Regions from separate parts of the Homo sapiens genome. Here region 2 is linked to region 1. The links come from fine-mapping of genetic effects on gene expression. Tissue or cell type: monocytes. Region 1 holds a variant in brackets; the other region holds the start of a gene. All regions are shown on one strand. Distances are from middle to middle.

Evidence for each region. PIP is the estimated chance that this variant, and not a neighbour inherited with it, causes the effect.
Region 2: it holds the start of ENC1, and the variant in region 1 is fine-mapped to the expression of ENC1 in monocytes (BLUEPRINT, PIP 0.90).

Annotation. Positions count from the first base shown.
Region 1 is chr5:75,631,422-75,634,101 of GRCh38, forward strand. The region is part of intron 5 of ANKDD1B (ankyrin repeat and death domain containing 1B); the gene reads left to right. Among named protein-coding and RNA genes, the nearest start is that of ANKDD1B, 21 kb to the left of the region's middle. The variant C/T (reference allele first, on the strand shown) is at 1,295.
Region 2 is chr5:74,639,710-74,642,389 of GRCh38, forward strand. It overlaps ENC1 (ectodermal-neural cortex 1), which reads right to left and starts at 1,019. Exons shown (of 3, transcript NM_003633.4): 1 at 598-1,019. It also overlaps a transcript of HEXB not described here. RefSeq lists enhancers at 468-827, 1,289-2,004, 2,005-2,680 and a silencer at 868-1,127.

The DNA.
Region 1 (2,680 bases):
CAGATGAATTATAAATTCCAGAAGGGGAAACCATCTTTTGGGCTTCTCTGAGTGCAGTGACTCTTGGAACTAGGCATCTCTCTCATGGGGACCCTGAAAGCTGTGCCTAAGGAGTTATTCAGGAGATATTTATTCTTGTGGGGCATGAGCCTTCTAAGCCAGGATGGCTCCGACCCATCCAATGTGGATCTTGTCACTTTGCAACTAAGCGCTCATCTGGGGGTCCAAAGACAATACCTCCTGGACAGCTATGTGGACCGTGTCATGAAGAGAAAACAGCTGATAGATACTGACAAGCTGTAATTTGTGCCCACATCTTCTGAGAAGACTGGTGCCAGATGTTGCCTGTGATAACTTTATGAGTCTGAAATGTTTAGTTGAACCTTAAAAGACTCACTGGTGGGCTAGGCGCGGTGGCTCACACCTGTAATCCCAGTACTTTGGGAGGCCGAGGCAGGTGGATAACTTGAGGTCTGGAGTTTGAGACTAGCTTGGCCAACATAGTGAAATCCCGTCTCTACTAAAAATACAAAAAATTAGCTGGGCATTGTGGTGCGCGCCTGTAATCCCAGTTACTTAGGAGGCTGACGCAGGAGACTTCCTTGAACCCAGAAGGCAGAGGTTGCAATGAGCCAAGATTGTATCACTGCACTGCAGCCTGGGCAACAGAGCAAAACTCTGTCTCAAAAAAAAAAAAAAAAAGAAGAAAAAGAAAAAAAGACTCATTGGTGGACATTGAAGTTGCTCATAATTCTCTGACATAGGCAGTTGATTTAAGGAAGCCATCTAGTCAAAGGTGACAGAAACTCAACCCAAACCATACTAAGGAAAGGAATTTATTGGCTCATTCAATTAAAAATCTAGCCATGGATTCAGGTATGTCTGAATGCAGGAGATCAAATGATGTCAGCAGGGCTCTTTATCTCTTCCTAGTTTTCAACTCTGCTTTTCACTGTGCTGACTTCATTCTTAGGCAGGGTCTTCTTATCAGGTGGCAAAGAGGACTACTAACAGCTAGCTGATGGCTCTAGAATAAAAATAGGATAAGCCAAAAAAATATCTCATGGTTGGCTCTCATAGGCCTAGCATGTGACCATCCCTGAACCAAGCACTGTGGCCAAGGGATAGGTGGTAGAAGAGGCAGGAGCCTATAATTAACAGCTCCACAAAATGAGCCAGGGGTCATTCTCCAGTGTAAAAGATAGCAGGCAGGAATCAGGTAACAAGTGCTCTTTTCTTCTGTTCCAGTGCATTACCAACCTTTAAAGGCCTTCTTCCACCATTTCTCACCACC[C/T]GCCTTTCCAGCCACAAACACACTCATGCTGAGTTATGTACCCCCATATATAAGCAGCACTCGGTTACTACATTACATTATAATTACTTGCTTATGTGTCCATCTCTCCTTTTGGACTCTGAGCTTGAGGATGGGCAATATATTTCTCATCTTGGTCACTCTATTGCTTAGCACATTATCTGGCATATTCATAGGCGCTCAACAATTGTTGAACAAATGAATGAATTATTTATGAGGATATGTGACCAGATGTTTTCATCTGGTATATAATCACTGTCTCTTGTTCCCTCTTTTTGATTTGTTTACATGAAACTTTACCTGTAGTCACTATTTGCAGATATTGATATATCAAACACAATGATTTTTGGTCTGTCATTTCCAAAGAGTTGCTCATGACTCAAGATTAAATTTTACCCTTCAATTAGTGCCTACCTTGAAAGCAGAAAACTGTGGTTCCAAGCAGTCTCTGTTTCTTTCCTTTGCCATTTCTTAGTGATTTCCTGAGAATGAAATCACTAAACCCTTTGAAGGGCTGGGGATGTAGATCTCATTGGTGACATATGTGGCCCAAGAATGATGAATTAGGTGAACTTTTTGGTGCAAATTTGTTTCTCCAGCTTCCATACATGCATAAATACAGACCTCTGTAGGACTGATCTTTATAGATTTGTTTTTGTCTTCGCTTTTTGCCATTTATTATTTCAGCATTTTTTCTTCCTTTTTTTCTCCAGTTATTGGGGGCTCCTATGTTGTTATCTCAGGTTAACAGTGGCCGTGATCTTTTCATTACCCTATTTTATCAAGTGTTAGATGAGGCTCATATCTATTTTTTAACATTAAGACACCTTGCTAAGCTTTCAGTTAGTAACACACTAAGCCAATCTGTGAGTGTTTTCTTCTCTTTAATTGAAGAAAATACTTCTGCTACCGTATTGCCACCACAACTTCCTTTTCCTTATTTTAATTATCTCAAGTTACAACATTACATTTTCTGTGGATCTGTTATAGTTTGGCTATGCTTTGTCCTCACCAGAATGCATGTTGAAATTGGATCCCCAATCTGGTGGTGGTAGGAGGTGGGACCTATTGGGAGATGTTTGTGTCATGAGGGTGGATCTTTCATGAATGGCTTGGTGACATTCTTCAGGTACTGAGTTCTCACTCTGGTGGGACTAGATTCATTCTCATAGGAATAAATTAGTTCCCACAAAGGTGGGAGCTAGGATGCTCTTGGGTTTTGTCCCTTCACACATGCTTGCATCCCTTTGACTTTCTCTGTCATGTTATGACACAGTGTGAAAGCCCTCACCAGAAGCCAAGACCATGCCCTTGAACTTCCAGCCTGCAGAACTGTGAGCTAAATAAACCTCTTTTCTTTATAAATTA
Region 2 (2,680 bases), 990 kb before region 1:
TGTGGATAAATTCAGTGTTTCATCTCCAGGCCCACCAATTCCTATCCTTTGTAACTAATAATGTTAACACGACAGATCAAGAAACTAGTTTTTCAGAAAGCAGTTTTCATTCATTCTCTATAGACATTTCCGCCGCAGTGAACATGCCCGCACTCAGGGTGTCTGTGCATGGCCCCAACTTTCCTCCAAGCCGGGGAGGATGCAACGTGGGCCAACCATCCCGCGCGCTCGGCCCTGGAGGCTGCGGGGAGCGACGCAGCGCGACATTCACCCCCAGGAAAGCGCTGCTTTCCGCAGAGGAGAGAGGCTGACTGTATCCTTAGCTCGGCTCCTCGCTTCCCCAGCGGCTCGCCCCAGACATTGCACCGCGGAGGGGAGGCCGGTCGACCTCTCCGGCGATGCCCGGCTTCTGCCTGCTGTGGGAGGGCAGCGGCGGGCACCGTGATCTCCGCACCGAGAAGAGCTCCCCTTGCCCTCTAGTCGAAGCTCCCGAGTGCTCGGAGCACGCTCACCCCTCGCGAACACACCCCTGCAGCCGAAGCAGCCCCTGAAGCCCGCAGCGCCTGCAACAGGTCCGGGGCAGTGGGGGAAACTTACAGCAGTGGCGACTGGCCGCAACGCACAACTGAGTTCTAGCGACGGTCACGGGCAAGGAGGCGACGAACCGGTCGTCTCAGCCCAGGGAAGCGGTGGCGAATGCCCCGGAGAAAGGAGGGCCAGCCGGGGAGAGGACTGCGCCCCGAACGATGGCTCGCGGACCGGCTACCGATGGCGTTCGCCTCCGTCTGTCGTCCCCACGCCGCGGACCCGGTGTCCAGGACCCGCAGAGCGTCTCCGGAGCGCGTCACGGTAGGGCAGAGCAAGCCTGCCACTGCAGGCGCCGCGGAAGGAGGCGGGCTGTGCGCTCGGGGGAGGGAGCTAGAAAGCGCCTTGTGTGCCGGCGGCCGCCAGGCGTCTGGACCGGGTCTCCGCAGCGCCACCGCCGCACCGCCTCCTCTCCGGCTGCCAGAGCAGTCTGCGCCCCGCCGCCGTGCGCCCCGCTATAAGTGGCGCGGCGGGGAGGGGAGGGGGCGCGTATGCAAAGAGACCGACACCGGGGGAGGGAGGAAGCGCATTAGCGCGGCCTGTGGTGTAGGAGGAGGAAGAGGAGGAGAAGGAGTGGGAGGAGGAGAGGAGCTAGAGAAGAGCGTGTCGGGGGAGTTAATCGGGAGAGGAAGCGGGAGAGGGGGGCTGCGGGGAGTGCAGAGAGACAAAGCGGACGCACTGTCTCAGCCGCTGGCAGCTGCAACCCCGGGAACCGAGAATAAAATAAGTTTTCCCGGGTTCGAGTGTCTGCGCCTCTTTGGGCCAGCCTGGTTAATGGACAGCCCCGGATCTGAGGGACCCACCTTAGGGGAGCGCAGCCCGGGGCTGTGCGCTTGGTGATGCCAGAGCCCGCGAGATGCTCTAAAAAGGGCTGCAAGGGGCGAGCTGGGTATCCGCAGGACAGGCCCTGGGCACGCATAGACAGCGCCTTGGGTAGGACACCCAGAGTGGGGAGAGATAGTGGCAATGGACGGGCAAAAGTCTGGACAGTTTAGGGACACTCGGGTTGAGCAAGCCAGGACGTTTAAGTTTCTTGCTGGCAGAGAGCCAAAGAGACTCCAGCCCCAGGCATTTCCTATGTGTCCTCCCTCCCCACTCCCCAGTGGGTGCGGCACCCCCGGCTGGACTCTGCCCTAAGCCAGGCGACTGCAGGGGCAGCCGGGGCGCAGTCCTGCGGGGCGCGCACCACGTGCTTTTCAGCCAATCGCCGCGGCCGCTTGATTCAAAGTGAACTCCTCAAAGCAGCAGCCACGCCGCCTCCTCTCCTAGCGATTAAGCCTCCATCACCTTCTCCTGTTTTTTATCGCTCGGTGGTGTTAGTTTGGAGTTCAGTAAAGAAATGGCCCAGCACACACACACGTTTAATAGTCCCGCGTGTCAGGAGAAGGGAAGGCGATTCGAAAAATAATCTCGCGTGGTGATCACTTTTACGAATCCCATTTATCTTTGCAACTAGAGGCTTGTCTTTCCACTGGGAGTTAAAATATCTGTCTTTTATTCGGTATTTGGAGCTAAGTCTATAAATGAACGGGATAGATGACCGGTCCAGCCCCCTTGTTTTACAGGTGGGGAACCGAGGCCCAGGGAGATGTGAATTGCCTGGCTCGTAGTCACTTAGCAACAATGTCCCAGCTCTGCAGCTCGAGAGTGAGGGCCCCACGACAGAGTTTATTCCGTCCCCGGGTCCCCGCGTCCCCAAGCGCCCGCGCTTCGCCTCCCAGCTTGCTTTAAAACACTAGGCGCAGGAGCGATTTAAACTGGCTAAGGAGGCCCCACATGGCGCTTCCAGAGTCCAGACTGCTGAAACCAAGACTGTCAGTTCTTCATTCTAATTTCATTTTCCTTTATCCTTGTTCCTTCCTGGTATTTGCGCCGAGAAATTTCGCTCCTTGCAAACAAAGAAAGACAGTGCCCTCTGAAGTCCTTTGTTAGCATTAACTCGGCAGCCTCACCACGAACCTTTCAATATATATATTTTTTAATGCAGAGTCTCGGCTTGAGGCTGATTCACAGAGACAGCCCGGATCAATTCATGTCAAGAACCACGTATGGAGAGCCAGGGGGGCTGCGAGGTTAGGAGAGGGCTGGCAAGCAG